Linked DNA regions of Homo sapiens: regions 1, 2 and 3 are each linked to region 4. Evidence: fine-mapped expression QTL. A gene starts in region 4. Each other region holds a variant in brackets. All regions are shown on one strand. Distances are from middle to middle.

Region 1 (4,000 bases), 34 kb after region 4:
GGACTCGTTTATTCAGTTTCATTGAGTGGTGTCGTCCATTTAGTGTTGCTATAACAGAATACCCGAGGCTGGGTAATTCATGGAGAAAAGAGGTTTATTTGGTTCATGATTCTCATGGCTGGAAAGTTCAAGATTGGACAGCTGCATCTGGTGAGGGCCTCAGGCTGCTTCCACTCATGGCAGAAGGTGGAAGGGGAGTGGGTGTGTGCATAGAGACCACATGGCGAGAGAGGAGGCCAGAGAGCCTAGGGAACCAGACTCCCTATCATACCAGCCCACCCTCTGCTCACAGTCGAGTCCTGCCGGAGCTAGAATCCAGGCCCTCGCCACAGTTCATTGCCTCGGGATCTGCCCTTGAGCCCTGAACACCTCCTACTATGCTCCACCTCCCAACACTGCCACATTGAGAATCAAATTTCACCATTAGTTTCTGAGGGAACAGACTCAAACCATAGTAGTGAGCCCTGATTCCCTTATCTGTAAATTGACGTATTAGCACTAACCTCATAGCATTTTTTATCTTATTTATTTATTTATTTATTTTTTGAGACAGAGTCTCACTCTCACCCAGGCTGGAGTGCAGTGGCACGACCTCGGCTCACTGCAAGCTCCACCTCCCAGGTTCACACCATTCTCCTGCCTTAGCCTCCCGATTAGCTGGGACTACAGGCACCCGCCACCATGCCTCGCTAATTTTTTTTGTATTTTTAGTAGAGACGGGGTTTCACCTTGTTAGCCAGGATTGTCTCAATCTCCTGATGTCGTGATCTGCCCACCTCGGCCTCTCAAAGAGCTGGGATTACAGGCGTGAGCCACCGCACCCAGCCTCTTTTTTTGTTGTTGTTGTTGTATTTTGAGTAAGGGTCTCTTTCTGTCACCCAAGCTGGAGTGCAGTGGTGTGATCTCGGCTTGCTGCAACCTCTGCCTCCTGGGTTCAAGCAATTCTCCTGCCTCAGTCTCTCAAGTAGCTGGGACTACAGGCACGCCCCACCATGCCCAGCTAATTTTTGTATTTTTAGTGGAGACAGGCTTTCGCCATGTTGGCCAGGCTGGCCTCAAACTTGAGTTTGGGAGCACCTCGGCCTCCCAAAGTGCTGGGATTACAGGGGTGAGCTACCACGCCCGGCCAGCAGTGGCATCTTTTATCAGACACACATGCAGTCGTGATAGGGCCTCATCAGTAATGAGCAGGATTGGGCTTAAGAAAACATTCAGATGAGGATTGAGTGATTTGCAAACTGAGATGAAATCCTCTCTTTTTCATTTTGTTGGGGAGGGCTGGCTGTGATAATTAAAACAGGTTTTGTAACATAAAATCAAATTGACACAGGCTGGGCGCGGTGACTCACTCCTGTAATCCCAACACTTGTGGAGGCAGAGGTGGGCGGATCACCTGAGGTCAGGAGTTCAAGACCAGCCTGGCCAACATGGTGAAACCCCGTCTCTACAACAATACAAAAATTAGCCAGGCGTGATGGCAGGTGCCTGTAATCCCAGCTACTGGGGAGGCTGACGCAGGAGAATTGCTTGAACTCGGGAGGCAGAGGTTGCAGTGAGCCAAGATCGCACCATTGCACTCCTGCCTGGGCAACAGAGCGAGTCTCAAAAAAAACAAAACAAATTGACACATAGTGTCACTTGGTAAATGACAGTTATTGAGATGAATACAGTCAGTTCTCTGTATCTTTGGGGTCCACACCTGTGAATTCAACCAACTTTTT[C/A]TTTTCACTCCCTAAACACTACGGTATAACAACCATTTACATCGTATTAGCTATTTTAAGTGCTGTAGACATGATTTGCAATATAGGGGAGGATGTGTGATGGTTGTATGCAAATACTACGCTGTTTCATATAATGGACATCTAGGCGGGGACTGGGGTTTCCTGAAACCAACTGTGCGTTACATCTTCAGAAGCTTTTTCAGTTCCTTTCAAGCCTGTTGCTTAGGTTGCGCAGTCTACACACCAAGACAAGGGCATTCCTCTGCGGGAGTAAAGGGTACCATGTATCTTTCTCAAGTCTTTGAAAATGATTATTTCCTGTGCTTTTTTTTTTGCAGAGCTGGTGGAGTTGAGATCTATAATGGAGATCGTAAAATAAAGGTTTCCAACACCCTGGAAAGCCGGCTGGATCTCATAGCCCAGCAGGTGAGTGTGGGGGTACTTCTTGGTAGTTGGTCTGCTGTTACTTTGAAGTGGGACAGAGAACACGTGTCCATTCACTGGTATTTGGGATTTGTTGCTGTCTTTCCAGTTTTGGACATTTTCTCAAAAAGAATGAGAATTGGGCATGTAGTAGCATTTGCTGAGGTGGTAACATTTACATGAGGGTGAATTTGGGGTCAGAACAAGTGTTTTGTTGACCTAGGATTCGAATATGTACATTTTACTACATGTAAGGTGCTGACAAGTTCTTTCTCTAACAGGAGTGATGGGAACTAAAGCAAATACTTGTGTTTTTTTGTTTTGTTTTGCTTTTTTGAGATGGAGTTTCACTCTTTTTTGCGCAGGCTGGAGTGCAGTCTTGGCTCACTGCAACTTCCACCTCCCAGGTTCAAGCGATTCTCCTGCTTCAGCCTCCCGAGTAGCTGGGATTACAGGCACCTGCCACCACACCCGGCTAATTTTGTATTTTTAGTAGAGACGGGGTTTCACCATGTTGGCCAGGCTGTTATCAAATTCCTGACCTCAGGTGATCCACCCGCCTTGGCCTCCCAAAGTGCTGGGATTACAGGTGTGAGCCACCGTGCTCAGACACAAATACTTATTTAAAGGAATTATCATAAAGCTGCTGGCTTTTCAGATGTTTCCAGATTTGTACACAGGAACTCTAGGAAACAAGCCAGGAAAATTCCATTTGTTCTAAAATGCTGGGCATCTTCTAGACTTCTAGTGGGAGTCTATTGCTGTGGCTGCCAACCTAGTTATTCCCTGACCTAGATATGCAGTTTACTGTTTATGCAGATACTTGTCTTATAACTAAAGCACTTTCACCTTGATTTTTTCATATTCTGGTAACTTAAACCTCAGAACATTGTTTCCTAGTAGCCACTGTCCCATCCAGTATCATAGCCACTACTCACTTACGGATATTTAATTAAACCGAAAAATTCAGTTTCTCAGCACACAATAACCATCTGTAGCTAGGACTGCCCTGTTGGACAGCCGAGCCTTGGAAGTCCAGGGTTAAGTTCTCCTAAGGATTCATCAGTGGCTGTAGCAAGTGCTTCCAGCCTAAGCTGGCATTGGAAGTGTTCTTTGCAGCTGCTGTGGCCATAGTAGGCACTCAGTAAATGTTTGTTGAAGAAAGAGTGTAGGTGACCCAGCATATTGTGGTGAGATGATTATGATGAGTTAAGTCTGAGATAGTAGTGACTTTAGGTTTTTTTTTGTTTTGTTTTTTTTTAATGTGTCCCTTTTGTAAGCAGTCTGAACCCCAGATTTGGGATGAGTTAAGTTTCTCACCAAGGAATGTGTTACTTGCTTCAGGGAAGGAGAGGGTGGCTTTGATGTGCGTGGCTTTGTGAGTCCTTCCCAGCCACATAGAGGTTCATGGCTTTCCACCTGTGGTTAAGATGTGCAGCACTCTGGCCAGGCTTGGTGGCTCACGCCTGTAATCCCAGCACTGTGGGAGGCCGAGGCGGGTGGATCACGAGGTCAGGAGATCGAGACCATCCCGGCTAACATGGTGAAACCCCGTCTCTACTAAAAATACAAAAAAATTAGCCAGGCATGGTGGCAAGCACCTGTAGTCCCATCTACTTGGGAGGCTGAGGCAGGAGAATGGCGTGAGCTTGCAATGAGCGGAGATGCGCCACTGCACTCCAGCCTGGGCGACAGAGCGAGACTCCGTCTCAAAAAAAAAAAAAAAAAAAAGATGTGCAGCGCTCTACAACTTCTTCAGCTGACATTGCGTATTTATTACACTTTCTCTCCACAGATGATGCCAGAAGTCCGGGGAGCCTTGTTTGGTGCAAATGCCAACAGGAAGTTTTTGGACT
Region 2 (5,182 bases), 55 kb before region 4:
TTTAGCCGTCATCTGCATTAAGTATTTATTGCATTAATCTAACGCTTACTCCTATAAGGCTGCAAATTTTACTATAAAGTATGTGTTTCTTTATAAAGTGCTTGCCTCCGAGAAAGATGCAAATGGCTGCAAAGTTCACAAATACTTTGTTGTTTGAGCAAGCTGGAGAGCATCCATTTTAATGGTCTAACTTAGATAATATGGGGTTCAATAAGTGAACGTATTTTAAACCTTTTGTTACTCTCTTCTTCTTTCTACCTTTTGCCCATTTTACTATGCAGCAGTGCTGTTACCAGAATATACATGAAGAGAATCAGAAATTTAATCATTTCAAAATGTTGATAAAGAAATATAATGGTCGGGCACAGTGTTTCACACCGGTAATCCCAGCACTTTGGGAGGCCGAGGCGGGTAGATCACAAGGTCAGGAGATCGAGACCAGCCTGACCAACGTGGTGAAACCCCACCTCTACTAAAAATACAAAAATTAGCCAGGCATGGTGGCGGGCGCCTATAATCCCAGCTACTCAGGAGGCTGAGGCAGGAGAATCACTTAAACTCGGGAGGCGGAGGTTGCAGTGAACTGAGATCGCACCACTGCACTCCAGCCTGGGTGACAGAGCGAGACTCTGTCTCAAAAAAAAAAAGAAAAAAAAAGAAATATAAAAGACAAGACTAACATTAGGTTTCAGGATTATTTGTACATTTCATTTTTTTTAAATGGTCTCACTCTGTCACCCAGCCTGGAGTACAGTGGCATGATCTTGGCTCACTACAACCTATGCTTCCTGGGTTCAAGAGATTCTCATGCCTTAGCCTCCGAGGTAGCTGGAATTACAGGTGTGCACCACCATGCCTGGCTAATTTTTTTGTATTTTTATAGAGGCAGGGTTTCACCATGTTGGCTGGGGTCATCTCAAACTCCTGGCCTCAAGTGATCCACCCACTTCAGCCTCCCAAAGTGCTGGGACTACAGGCACCGCACCTGGTCTCGGGATTATTTGTACATTTCTATCTGTGTTTTTTCTCTACTAACGAGGAACATGAGTTATGAACATAATTTATAATTTTGATCATTAAAAATTATTGGGCAGGCTGGGTACGGTGGCTCACGCCTGTAATCCCAGCACTTTGGGAGGCTGAGGTGGGCGGGTCATGAGGTCAGGAGATCAAGAACATCCTGGCTAACACGGTGAAACCCCGTCTCTACTAAAAATTACCAAAAGAGTAGCTGGGTGTGGTGGTGGGCACTGTAGCTCCAGCTACTCAGGAGGCTGAGGCAGGAGAATGGCGTGAAGCTGGGAGGCGGAGCTTGCAGTGAGTCGAGATCCCGCCACTGCACTCCAGCCTGGGCAACAGAGCGAGACTTTGTCTCAAAAAAAAAAAAAAAAAAAAAAAAAAAAAGAAAAAGAAAAAATTATTGGGCAATATATGTCCACACAAAAACTTGCACAAGAATATTCACAGCAGCATTATACATAATAGTAAACAAGTAGAAACAACCTAAATTTCCATTAACTAATGAATGAATAAACAAAATATGACACATCCACACAGTGGAATATTATTTGACTGTAAAAAGTAATGAAGTACTGATACATGCTACAACATGGATGACCCTTGAAAACATTATGCTAAGTCGGCCAGGTGCAGTTGTTCACGCCTGTAATCCCAGCACTCTGGGAGGCCGAGACAGGTGGATCATTTGAGGTCAGGAGTTGGAGACCAGCCTGGCCAATATGGTGAAACCCCGTCTCTACTAAAAACAAAAATTAGCTGGGCGTGGTGGTGGGTACCTGTAATCCCAGCTATTCAAGAGGCTGAGGCTGGAGAATTGCTTGAACCTTAAAGTCGGAGGTTGCAGTGAGCCCAGATCATGCCACTGCATGCCAGCCTGTGCAACAGAGCAAGGCGATGTCTTAAAAAACAGCAACAACAACAAAAATACATTATGCTAAGTAAAAAATGCCAGTCACAAAAGACCACATAGTGGCCAGGCGCAGTGGATCACGCCTTTAATCCCAGCACTTTGGGAGACCGAGGTGGGCGGATCACCTGAGGTCAGGAGTTCAAGACCAGCCTGAGCAACATGGAGAAACCTTGTCTCTATTAAACGTACAAAAAATTACAGGCCGGGCGTGGTGGCTCATGCCTGTAATCCCAGCACTTTGGGAGGCCAAGGCGGGCAGAAAACAAGGTCAGGAGATCAACGAGACCATCCTGGCTAACACGCTGAAACCCCGTCTCTACTAAAAATACAAAAAATTAGTCGGGTGTGGTGGCAGGCGCCTGTAGTCCCAGCTACTCGGGAGGCTGAGGCAGGAGAATGGCCTGAACCCAGGAGGCGGAGCTTGCAGTGAGCCAAGATCCCGCCACCGCACTCCAGCCTGGGCAAAGAGCCAGACTCTGTCAAAAAAAAAAAAAATACAAAAAATTAGCCAGGTTTGGTGGC[A/G]CATACCTGTAATCCTGGCTACTCAGGAGGCTGAGACAGGAGAATCATTTGAACCTGGGAGATGGAGGTTGTGGTGGGCCGAGATGGTGCCACTGCACTCCAGCCTGGGCAATGAGAGCGAAACTGCATCTCAAAACACCACCACCACCACCACATAGTGAACTATTCTATTTATGTATATTTCCAGAATAGGCAAATCAATAAAAACAGAATGGAGATCAGTGGGTGCCTGGTGTGGGGTGGGGTTGGGGCCTGGGGCTAGTGGGAATGGGAAGTGGCTGCTAATGTGTATTGTGTTTCTTTAAGGAGAACCGAAAGTGTTCTAAATTTAGATCATGGTGATAAATTCTGTGAATACACTACAACCACTGAATTGTACTTTATTATTATTATTATTTATTTAATAAATAGAGACATGGTCTCCCTATGTTGCCCAGTGTGGTTTTGAACTCAGGGGCTCAAGCAACCCTCCTGAGGCCTTGGCCTCCCACAGTGCTAGAATTACAGGCATGAGTCCCTGTGCCCAGACTGAACTGGACCTTTTAAATGGGTGAATTTTATGGTATGTAAAATATATCTCAATAAAGCTGTAAAAATATATTTATATCATTGGGTAAGATGTTCAGTGCAGCATTACCTATGGAAGACAAAACCGGAAATAATGCAAATGCTGTGTAGTCGTCGTCCAGTGAAAAAAGGAATAATAATCCAAATGCTCCCCTCAATAACAAGGGAACAGGCCAGGCATGGTGGCTTACACCTGTAATCCCAGTGCTCACTACTGCACTCCAGCCTGGGCAACAGAGCAAGACCCTGTCTCTGAAATAGTAATAATAATAATAATAATAATAATAATAATAATAATAATGGAATGACTGAGTAAAAACATTTATTCAGTGAATGAAATTTCACGCAGTTAGTAGAGTAACTATTTTTAAAGTTTATGTTGTAATGTTAAGTGCAAAATAAAATGGCTATAAAGTTGAATGTACATTATAATTACAGTTATCTATAGTATATATGTATGCAAAAATAAAAGCGTATGCTTACTTTTTCCTTTTTATGTCGTTATTACTTATAAAGGTAATACTAAATACAAATCAAACCATAGTGAATGGAAAGAACCTTAACATGATCATTTATCCGATACTTAACATGAGAAACTGCTACATCTAACCTGTTAGGTATAGTTGGGGAACTTCCATCAACATATCCTCCAGGAAAGAAAAAAGGCTACCTTCTAGTTTTACCCTTATAAACTTCTACCAATGTATAATTGGTGTAAGTTGTTAACTGTTGAGAATACCCCACTGTAAAAATCAAATTAAACCAACAGTAAACCATAACAAACACAATCTGCTTATTAACTAGAAAAATAAGAATAAACAGACCTTCAGAAATTTCTTTGTCCAGAGATTTTAGCTCTTCTTCAATTTCAGTTTTAACTTTTAATAAAATTTCTTGATCCAGAGATTGTGAAGCTATATCTAGTTGAACCCCTGAAAGCAACAAAAAAGGTTATTATTGAAAGAGGGAGAGAGAAACCATTAGAATATAATAGCACTTTTTTTTTTTTTTTTGAGACGGAGTCTCGCACTGTCACTGGGGCTGGAGTGCAATGGCATGATCTCCGCTCACTGCAACCTCTGCCTCCTAGGTTCAAGCGATTCTCCTGCCTCAGCCTCCCAAGTAACTGGGATTATAGGCGCCTGCCACCACGCCTGGCTAATTTTTTTGTATTTTTAGTAGAGACAGGTTTCACTATGTTGGCCAGGCTGGTCTCGAACTCCTGACCTTGTGATCCGCCTGCCTCGGCCTCCCAAAGTGCTGGGATTTCAGGCGTAAGCCACTGCACCCAGCCCTACAATAGCAATTTGTTAAGCCAAAAAATGCAAAATCAAAATTCATTATCAAAATTAGGGACGGGAGGAAATCCTTTTTGCAATAATTAAAAAACAAAAATCAAAAACAACCTTTAGTAGAAATATTTGGGCCTATGGATTGAGAGTGAGTAAGTCTCCACCTTTCCAGATGTTTCTGCCAGAAACAGGGAAATTGAGCTGAATCTTCAGAAACACATTAACTCAAGAGGAGGTTGGGAAAGATGTATCAATAAGTCGGGCCAGTCCTCTCTTTTTGTAGACAATGTATCCTTTTTAAAAAGTATGAAGATGGAATATGATAAAAACAAAAAGAATTCATGCTATTAATATTTCAGTGGTGGTGGGAGATGTCCATTCCCCCCACTTCAAATTATATAGATCCCTAATTGTATCTCACTTTTGGACACATTTTTAGATGATATACTTCTAGCATTTTATACATGCTTTGTAATTTTCTTTCTTTTCTTCCCCCAACCCTGCCCACAACAGTTAGTTGACTGCTGCTTAAGTCCACAAAGCACACAACTGAGGCTAAAATTCCACCACTGTGGGCATAACGATTTCTTTGTACCAATCACATTAGATTTATGAGTTATGCTCATCACCAGTCTCTCATGCTTATTACTGGTTAATTCTATTTTGCTACTAAGTTTTCTAAATACAGCAAGATAATTATATATCTTTGCAAGTACTAAGGTACAAAAAAAGATACTGCTGAAGCCTGAAAGCAGTACCTCTGTCATTTGACAGTCCAATTTCACCCAAGTTAGTTTTAGTGATAACAATACACAATAATGGCTAATATCAAGTGCTGGGGGCACTATACTAAGCACTTTGTATGTACATG
Region 3 (4,848 bases), 53 kb after region 4:
GACTGGTTGCCAGCAATTCTTTGCTGTCTCCAGCTATTTTGTTTTGGGTAAGAAAAGAGAGGAGGGGTGGGGGAGACATTAGTCTTTCTCTTGGTGCTACACTAATCCATTCAGGAAGACATTTGCTGAGTGCTGGGCACTGCTCCAGGTCTGGTGACATAGTAGTGAACAAAATACACATTCTAGTTCTCAAGGACTTAAGTTTGGCCGGGAACAGTGGCTCACGCCTGTAATTCCAACACTTTGGGAGGCTGAGGCGGGTGGATCGCCTGAGCCCAGGAGTTCAAGACCAGCCTGGGCAACATAGTGAAACCCCGTCTTTACAAAAATACAAAAAATTAGCTGGCCATGGTGGCCCAGCTACTCAGGAGGCTGAGATGGGAGGATTATTTGAGGCCAGGAGGTGGAGGTTGCAGTGAGTCAAGATCACACCACTACACTCCAGCCTGGGCAACAGAGCGAAACCCTATGCCCCCCAAAGAAGAAAAAAAAAAAAAGAAGCAGGGCGCAGTGGCTCATGCCTGTAATCCCAACACTTTGGAAGGCTGAGGACGGCAGATCACCTGAGGTCAGGAGTTCGAGACCAGTCTGGGCAACATGGTGAAACCCCGTCTCTACTAAAAATATAAAAATTGGCTGGGCATGGTGGCGGGAGGATCACAAGGTCAGGAGTTCGAGACCAGCCTGGCCAACATAGTGAAACTCCATCTCTACTAAAAACACAAAAATTAGCGGGGAATGGTGGTGTGCGCATGTAGTCCCAGCTACTCAGGAGGCTGAGGCAGGAGAATGGCATGAACCTGGGAGGCAGAACTTGCAGGGAGCCGAGATCGCACCACTGCACTCCAGCCTGGGTGACACAGCGAGCCTCCATCTCAAAAAAAAAAAAAAAAAAATAGACAGGACACAACTGTTTCTGTCTGAAGCCAGGGAGTCCAATAATTGAGAACATTGTGACTGCTCTTATAATCATATTCCCTGCTGTTTCTAGAACTAAATTACTACTTTAGAAACTGTGGGCCGGGTGCGGTGGCTCACACCTATAATCTCAGCACTTTGGGAGGCTGAGGCGGGCGGATCACCTGACGTCAGGAGTTTGAGAACAGCCTGACCAACATGGAGAAACCCCATCTCTACTAAAAATACAAAAAATTAGCTGGGCTTGGAGGCTCACGCCTATAATCCCAGCACTTTGGGAGGCTGAGGCGGGCGGATCACAGGGCCAGGAGATCGAGACCATCCTGGCTAACATGGTGAAACCCCGTCTCTACTAAAAATACAAAAAATTGGCCGGGTGTGGTGGTGGGCGCCTGTCGTCCCAGCTACTTGGGAGTCTGAGGTAGGAGAATGGCGTGAACCCGGGAGGCGGAGCTTGCAGTGAGCCGAGATGGTGCCACTGCACTCCAGCCTGGGTGACACAGTGAGACTCTGTCCCCCACCCCAAAAAAATTAGCCAGGTGCGGTGATGGGCACCTATAATCCCAGCTACCTGGGAGGCTGAGGCAGGAGAATCGCTTGAACCCAGGAGGCGGAGGTTGCAGTGAGCCAAGATCACGCCACTGCACTCCAGCCTGGGCTACTGGAATAGGGGTATTTAACAGATGCCAGAGAAATTAGGGACACCCTAATCCCAGGGCCACTCCATAGCATAGCTAACAGATGTGATAATGTTTCCACCCACGGAGAGCACTTGGCTGGAGGGTGAGCCTCCCTACCCTGAGGCTGTACCAAGCTGCTGCAGTTCCAGCCCCGGAAGTTCCCTTTCGCAGGCCTATGCTAATCAAAGCCTATGACTTGACAAGATTCCTGGCAGCAGTAAATGCATTAGTAACAGGCAACAAAGGCGAAACCATTAGCCAGGCAAGGTATGAAAGGAGTCATAGCACCATGAAAACCCCAAACCTGGCACCAGGGCCGATAACTGCCCCCCAAGGCAACCCACAAGCCTAAGTGTTAGTCACGCTACAGATATTTGTTGAGTGATTACTGTATGCCATTTGCAGTTCTAAGCAGCAGGGACACAGCTGGGGAACAAAGCAAGGCCTTGCCCTCCACAGAATTGAATTCCTACTGGTTCCGGCACTGATGGGAATAGACTTCTTTTTTTTTTCTTTTTTTTTTTGAGACGGAGTCTCACTCTGTCGTCCAGGCTGGAGTGCAGTGGTGCGATCTTGGCTCACTGTGTAACCTCCGCCTCCTGGGTTCAAG[C/G]TATTCTCCTGCCTCAGCCTCCTGAGTAGCTGGGACTACAGGCTCACACCACCACGAATGGCTAATTTTTGTATTTTTAGTAGAGATGGGGTTTCACCATGTTGGCCAAGATGGTCTCCATCTCCTCACCTCCTGATCTGCCCGCCTCAGCCTCCCAAAGTGCTGGGATTACAGGCATGAGCCACCATGCCCGGCCTCCTCTACCTTCTTTTCTGAAGGAATTTAGAGGGTGTAGGGGGTATTGGGGTAGAAAAGATCATCTAAGTGCTGGGATGCAGAACAATGAGAAAACACATCTGGAACTCTTTGGAAACAAAGTGGGAAAGGACTAGAAAAGCAGCCAGCTGGAAGACAGAGGCTCCCTGTCACCGCCTTGGGATGCAGCATCTGGCCATGACATTGTGTCACTGTGCACTGGGAAGACAAGTGCATTCACAATTTACATGTGATAACTGAATCATATTGAGAAGAAGAAATTTGATACACGGGAAATAGCATGTTTGCATGTTCTTAGTGTCAAAAGGTGGAATGCAGTGGGTGAGCATACCCCATTCTAGGACTTGCCCTTTCCCCCTTGCTATTCCGGGTTAGTTGCACTGGGAACTGCCACGTCCCTGGAACTCCATCCCCTGGCTACTGTTCACTGTGTAAGGATGGAGACCTGACTTAAGCTGAATGATTCAACCCCTTCCATAGGAATTTTTAAAGTGTATGCAGCCTCTTTTAGGGGCATTTTACCTGTAACAGATAAAACTTGGGGCCCATCAGCAAACTTGTCACATGATTGAGGAAACAGAGATAAATAAAGCAGACCCGCAGAGATGATGCAAGGCGGGAGAGACTTCTGCCTTATTACTGCACAGCGATCCACTTTATTCCTGACCTTGACCACAAAAAGGGTCTCCCACTATGCTTCTAATGAGGTGACTTATTGTCTTAAGATAGTAGAGTTCTGTAACTTGGTAACCAAAGAGTGCTTAATAAATACATTTTTAAAACCCTCACATTCCATTTAATGGCAACTGAGCGGCTTAGACAGTGCGTGCTGAAAGGCTCAGAGGTGTGCAGAGTCACTAAGGGCTGGCTTGGAGAAGTGGGACTTAAAGAATAAGAGAGCACGGGGCACAGTGGCTCACACCTGTAATCCCAGCACTGTGGGAGGCCGAGGCAGGTGGATCACCTGAGGTCACGAGTTTGAGACTAGCCTGGCCAATGTGGTGAAACCCGGTCTCTACTAAAAATGTAACAATTAGCTGGGCGTGGTGATGCATGTCTGTAATCCCAGGTACTCAGAAGGCTGAGGCAGGAGAATCGCTTGAACCTGGGAGGCGGAGGTTGCAGTGAGTTGAGATCGCACCACTGCACTCTAGCCTGGGCGACAGAGCGAGACTCCATCTCAAAAAATACATATATAAATAATAATAATAATAATAATAAAGGGAACATTGGCCAGGCACAGTGGCTCACGCCTGTGATACCAGCATTCTGGGAGGCCGAGGGTGGGTGGATCAGGAGGTCAGGAGTTCGAGACCAGCCTGGCCAACATAGTGAAACTCCGTCTCTACTAAAAACACAAAAATCAGTCAGGCGAGACGTGATGGCACGTGCCTGTAATCCCAACTGCTCGGGAGGCTGACGCAGGAGAATCGCTTGAACCCGGGAGGTGGTGATTGCAGTGAGCCGAAACGACGCCATTGCACTCTAGCCTGGGCGACAGAGCAAGACTCCATCTCAAAAAAAAAAATAAAAAAAAAAAAGAATAAGGAAGCATTTAAAAGCAGAAGGTGGGGCGTGCAGACCCTGGATGTGGGCTTGGTGTGAGCAGAGGGTTCAGGGAACAGAACTGTGGGAAGGAGGCTGCAAAGGCAGGTTAGGCCACACGTGGGGAGCCTGGGTGGCTAGAGACAGCATGTGCCCTCCTAAAAGGGAATTTTTTTGTTTTCTTTTTGATTGGCATTTTCACAACATGAAAAGTGAATTTTTAAATGTGATCCTGTAGGCAGTAACAAAACACTGAATACTTCTTTTTTTCAGGGGACAAGATCTGGCTCTGTTGCCCAGGGTGGAGCGCCGTGGCGCAATCTCAGCTCACTGCAACCTCTGCTTCCCAGGCTCAAGCGATCCTCCCACCTCAGCCTCCCAAGGAGTTGGGACCATAGGTGTATGACACCATGTCAGGCTATTTTTTTAAAAAAAATTTTTGTAGAGATGGGTTTTGCCATGTTGCCCAGACTGGTCTTGAACTCCTGAGCTCAGCTGATCCGCACACCTCCACCTCCCGAAGTGTCGGGATTACAGGCGTGAGCCACACTGAATGCTTTTAAGGGGGAAAATACCACATTGAATGTAGTATGAGGACAGTTATTCTGGAAGAATGGGTTGAGGGGAGTCAGTGAGAGGCCAATTAGGAGACCCTTCAGAGTAAAACAATGAAGTGGAGAGGGAGGGATTAGGGAGAAGGGGTAGAGAACAAGGGTTACTGGGAGAGAACTTTGTAGAGAGCCTTGGTGACTGTCCAGGGCTGAACCGCAGAGAACCATGGAGCTGTCTCAGCTCTGAGGTGAGGAATGAAGGATGCAAGTTAGGAACCGAAGCTGCCTGCAGGGAAGGAGAGAGATGGGGTCAGTGGGGCTTCGGGAA
Region 4 (5,083 bases):
TATATATATATATATACACACACACACATACATACACACACGTACCATTCCTACTAAAAGGACAAAGAGCTGAGGTGGGAGGATCCCCTGAGCCCAGGAGTTCGAGACTAGCCTGACAAACACTGTAGGACTCTGTCTCAATTTTAAAAATAAAATTGAAAAAAAGGGACAAACGGACATCATGTACTTTCTGATGTGTTGCAAAGAGGACACAATATCACACATGTAGTACTCCTGCTATAATGCGTAACCTGAATCTAATTATGAGGAAACTGTCAAAACCCAATTGAGGCTGGGCGTGGTGGCTCACACCTGTCATCCCAGCACTTTGGGATGCCAAGGCAGGCAGATCATCTGAGCTCAGGAGTTCCAAGAACAGCCTGGCCAATGTGGCAAAACCCTGTTTCTACCAAAAAGAAAAAATTAGCGGGGCGTGGTGGCGGGCGCTTGTAATCCCAGCTACTGGAGAGGCTGAGGCAGGAAAATCTCTTGAACCCAGGAGGTGGAGGTTGCAGTGAGCCGAGTTTGCACCACTGCACTCCAGCATGAGCGACACTCTTCTGTCTCAAAAAAAAAAAAAATTGAGTGATTTTCTACAACTGGCCTATATTCTTCAAAATGTCACTATCAAGAAAGATAAGTCTGAGGAAACTCTTCCATATTAAAGGAGACTAAAAAGACATGATCACTAATGCAGTAAGTGACCCTGGATCCAATCCAGGTTATAAAGGTTATAAAGTAAGGTTATAAGAAGGTTATAAAAGGTTAAAAAGTAAGGTTATTAAAAAAAGGTTATGGCTGGGCGCGGTGGCTCACGTCTGTAATCCCAGCACTTTGGGAGGTGGAGGCAGGCAGATCACCTGAGGTCGGGAGTTCAAGACCACCCTGGCCAATGTGTTGAAACCCCATCTCTACTAAAAATGCAAAAATTAGCTGGGCGTGGTGGCAGATGCCTGTAATCTCAGCTACTGGGGAGGCTGAGGCAGGAGAATCAATTGAACCCGGGAGGCGGAGGTTGTGGTGAGCCGAGATTCTGCCACTGCACTCTAGCCTGGGCAACAGAGCGAGACTCCATCTCAAAAAAAAAAAAAAAAAGAAAAGAAAAAGAAGGCCGGGTGCAGTGGCTCACACCTGTAATCCCAGCACTCTCGGAGGCCGAGGCAGGTGGATCACGAGGTCAGCAGTTCAAGACCAGCCTGGCCAACACAGTGAAACCTCATCTCTACTAAAAATACAAAAATTAGCCATGCATGGTGGCAGGCACCTGTAATCCCAGCTGCTTGGGAGGCTGAGGGAGGAGAATCACTTGATCCCGGGAGGCAGAGGTTGTAGTGAGCTGACACCATGCCGTTGCACTGCAGCCTGGGCGACAGAGTGAGACTCTGTCTCAAAAAAAAAAGAAAGGGTTATAAAGTACATTGATGGATTGATGGGACAAAGGAATTTGTTTTTTTTTTTTTTGTTTTTTTGAGACGGAGTCTCACTCTTATTGCCCAGGCTGGAGTGCAGTGGCACGATCTTGGCTCACCGCAACCTCTGCTCCTGGGTTGAAGCAATTCTCCTGCCTCAGCCTCTCCAGTGGCTGGGATTACAGGCACACACCACCACGCCTGTTAATTTTGTATTTTTAGTAGAGACTGGGGTTTCTCCATGTTGGTCAGGCTGGTCTCGAAATCCCGACCTCAGGTGATCTGCCCACCTCAGCCTCCCAAAGTGGTGGGATTACAGGCGTGAGACACCGCGCCTGGCCCGGGACAAAGGAAATTAATGTTCAGCCTAGTAAACTAAATTTCCTGAATTTGCTACATCCTCGTTCTTATGACACACTAAAATAGGAAGTGTGTGTGTGTGTGTGTGTGTGTGTGTGTATGAAAATAAAGTGTTAATGTACATGTAGCAAAATGTTAACAATTGTTGAATCTAGGTGAAGGGAGGTCAATGCAGTATTCTTACAAGTTACTATATCTCAAATTTCTTCAAGATAAAAAGCTAATAAAAATGGTGGGTAACCATAGCACAGTAAAAAGAAAAAAGTGGGTGTACCATTTGACCTCTTATTCTACTATTAGGAGTCAGTCTATCCTAAAGATAAAGGAATTTTCAAAAGTTTTTGCCTTTGGGATTTTGGGGAAAAAAACGGGCTTGAGGTAAATCCAAATAAAAACAAATGAGCCTGGGGGGATTTCTGTCCTAATATTCCTCTAAATGGGACCTGGGAAGGCTTTTGAAAAATATATAGGCTATCTCAGAAAAGTTCCAAATAAATTATGTAGCTGCTCCACCCTAATAAGGAAGTTGAGCATAGCTTCCCACTCCCTAGGTGTGGGCTTTGTATAGTGGCTTCCTTCCTAAGACTACAGTATGGAAAGGGGGTTAAAAAAGGTAACTTCAGAGTGGAGAAACCTACAAACCCTACACTTTATTCAGGTAATCAAGGTTGACATGAATAGTCAGAAATCATGTATCCCCCTTTTTTTTTTCTTTTGGTAGAGACGGGGTTCCTCTATGTTGTCCAGCCTGGTCTCGAACTTGAGGTCAAGCGATACACCCGCCTTGGTCTCCCAAAGTCTCCGGATTGCAGGCGTGAGCCACCACGCCCGGCCAACAATCATGTACCCCTAAGCCCATAACCCTGTGTAATTATGCGAAAAATTCCAATAAAGGCACATTCTCCAATATACCTAACCAGTACTCCTCAAAACAGCCCGACTAATTTCAGATAGAGGAACTCCTTATCTTTTCTTCCTCCTACCCAAGATCCCAGTTTAGGAAAAAAATACCGGTCAGGTCACGAGTCAGCGACGTAGAAGGACCCGAGGACGCGCCCACAGGCCGGGACAGGGCGGGACTTCCTGGGCGTCGCTCTCTTCCCATTGGCTGAGAAGGGTCATGAGGATGAACTGTGCAGTCACCTGGCAGGAACCGGAACCCGCGGTTATAAAGTAAAGGAACCCGAGATCTGCGCAGGGGTTCCCTTTGCCGATTTCTCTCACCTCACCTTTCAAACCTAAACTCGAGCCTACTGTTCACCGGCCTAGCATTGCTCTCGCCATGGCTCTCAGCGATGCTGACGTGCAAAAGCAGGTGAGGGGCTTGGTTGGGTCTTACGAAGCCGCGGCGGCAGTCCCGGGGAGTGGGCTGGAGCCCGCCTAGGGAAGGCCGCGGGCCTTGAGCCGCCCAGATGCCGCAGGAAGGTCCCTTGCTCCAAGTCACCAGATCCAAGAGGTCGGCCTGAGGACGGAGATTTGCCCCGCAGCTCATGTGACTTTTGCTCGGGTCTTGGGCACTGCCCGCTTGCCTGCGCGCTGCCTTCTTGAACGCCCTGGCTCTTTGCCTCCCACCTCAGCATTCCCTGTTTTCCAAGGGTATTCACTGTGCCTAGTCGGACAGAGATCTGTGCAAGGATTGAAAACAGCCTTGTGGCCAGGGGCAGTGGCTCACGCCTGTAATCCCAGTATTTTGGGAGGCCGAGGCGGCCGGATCACCTGAGGTCAGGAGTCCGAGACTAGCCTGGCCAAAATGGTGAAACCCCGGTCTCTACTAAAAATAGAAAATTAGCCGGACGTGGTGGCGCGCGCCTGTAATCCCAGCTACTCGGGAAGCTGAACCCGGAGGCGGAGGTTGCAGTTAGCCGAGATCGCGCCTTTGCACTCCAGCATGGGCGACAGGGCGAGACTCCCTCTGGAAAAAGAAAAAAAAAAAACAAACCAGCCTTGTCACTTTTTTTTTTTTTAACCCTGAGGGAAATGCTTAAGGCTATATGATAGGAAACAGTGCGGAGGGAAGAGACCTGCTTCCAACCAGTGTTTTGACAAGGTCGTTCACTTTATGAACTGTGTTTTTTTCTTTTTTTCTTTTTTTTTTTTTTGAGACGGAGTCTCACTCTGTCGCCCAGGCTGGAGTGCAAGGGCGCGATCTCGGCTCACTGCAACCTCCGCCCCGGGTTCAAGTGATTCTCCTGCCTCAGCCTCCCTAGAAGCTGGGATTACAGACTCGCGCCCCAAGCCCGGCTAATTTTTGTATTTTTTTTAGTAGAGGCAGGGTCTCACCATATTGGCCTGGCTGGTCTTGAACTCCTGACCTCAGGTGATCTTCCCACCTGGGCCTCCCAAAGTGCTGGGATTACAGGCATGAGCCAACGCGCCAGGCCTGTATGTACTGTTAATCTTCATTTTGGGGAAGTCCCCTCTATCATAATGGATTGTAATGATTGGTCTCCCACTAATGTGTGTGTTAACATTTGTGAGATACAGGCTGGGGCCGGGCATGGTGGCTCACGTCTGTAATACCAGCACTTTGGGAGGCTGAGGAGGGCGGATCACCTGAGGTCAGGAGTTCGAGACGAGCCTGGCCAGCATGGTGAAACCCCATCTCTATTAAAAATACAAAAAATTAGCCGGGCATGGTGGCGGGCGCCTGTAGTCCCAGCTACTCGGGAGGCTGAGGCAGGAGAATGGCGTGAACCCGGGAGGCCGAGCGACCCTGGGCGGCAGAGCGAGACTCCCTCTCAAAAAAATAAAAAAAAAAAGATTGTCTGGGCCTAGTGGGGTGCGCCTGTAGTCCCAGCTACTCAGGAGGCAGAGGCAGGAGAATCGCTTGAACCCGGCAGGCGGAGGTTGCAGTGAGCCAAGATTGTGCCACTGCACTCCAGCCTGGGTGACAGAGTGAGACTCCATCTCAAAAAATTTTAATATTAATAAACACAAATACACGCCAGGTGTGGTGGCTCACACCTGTAGCCCCCAGCACTTTGGGAGGCTGAGGTGGGAGGATCGCTTGATCCCAGGAGTTCAAGACCAGCCTGGGCAACATAGACCTTATCTCTAAAAAATTTTTTCTTAAAAAATAAGCCAGGCTGTCTGGGCATGGTTGCTCATGCCTGTAATCCCAGCACTTTGGAAGGCCGAGGTGGGCATATCACCTGCGGTCAGGAGTTCCAGACCAGCCTGGCCAACGTGGCAAAACCCTGTCTCTACTAAAAATACAAAATTAGTGGGGCGTGCTGGCATATGCCTGTAATCCCAACTACTAGGAGGCTGAGGCAGGAGAATTTCTTGAACCCGGGAGGTGGAGGTTATGGTGA

Direction of the effects. Positions count from the first base shown, and alleles are read on the strand shown. Sizes are in standard deviations (SD) of each study's normalised expression. Not every link is listed here.
For the expression in stomach of the gene that starts at base 2,938 in region 4, C is the high allele of the variant in region 3 and G is the other (small effect, 0.18 SD a copy in GTEx).

What was found. PIP is the estimated chance that this variant, and not a neighbour inherited with it, causes the effect.
Region 1: its variant is the best candidate, but not a certain one, in a credible set for the expression of ATP6V1E1 in whole blood (TOPMed, PIP 0.60).
Region 2: its variant is the best candidate, but not a certain one, in a credible set for the expression of ATP6V1E1 in whole blood (TOPMed, PIP 0.81).
Region 3: its variant is the best candidate, but not a certain one, in a credible set for the expression of ATP6V1E1 in stomach (GTEx, PIP 0.77).

The regions. Positions count from the first base shown.
Region 1 is chr22:17,592,676-17,596,675 of GRCh38, reverse strand. It overlaps ATP6V1E1 (ATPase H+ transporting V1 subunit E1), which reads left to right. Exons shown (of 9, transcript NM_001696.4): 8 at 2,060-2,147; 9 at 3,940-4,000. Among named protein-coding and RNA genes, the nearest start is that of SLC25A18, 31 kb to the right of the region's middle. The variant C/A (reference allele first, on the strand shown) is at 1,722.
Region 2 is chr22:17,681,983-17,687,164 of GRCh38, reverse strand. It overlaps BCL2L13 (BCL2 like 13), which reads right to left. Exons shown (of 7, transcript NM_015367.4): 3 at 3,844-3,951. Among named protein-coding and RNA genes, the nearest start is that of BCL2L13, 46 kb to the right of the region's middle. The variant A/G (reference allele first, on the strand shown) is at 2,453.
Region 3 is chr22:17,573,628-17,578,475 of GRCh38, reverse strand. The region is part of intron 2 of SLC25A18 (solute carrier family 25 member 18); the gene reads right to left. Among named protein-coding and RNA genes, the nearest start is that of SLC25A18, 13 kb to the right of the region's middle. The variant C/G (reference allele first, on the strand shown) is at 2,209.
Region 4 is chr22:17,626,604-17,631,686 of GRCh38, reverse strand. ATP6V1E1 (ATPase H+ transporting V1 subunit E1) reads left to right here and starts at 2,938. Exons shown (of 9, transcript NM_001696.4): 1 at 2,938-3,084. The coding sequence starts at 3,052. It also overlaps a transcript of BCL2L13 not described here. RefSeq lists enhancers at 2,813-2,982, 2,924-3,013, 3,094-3,243.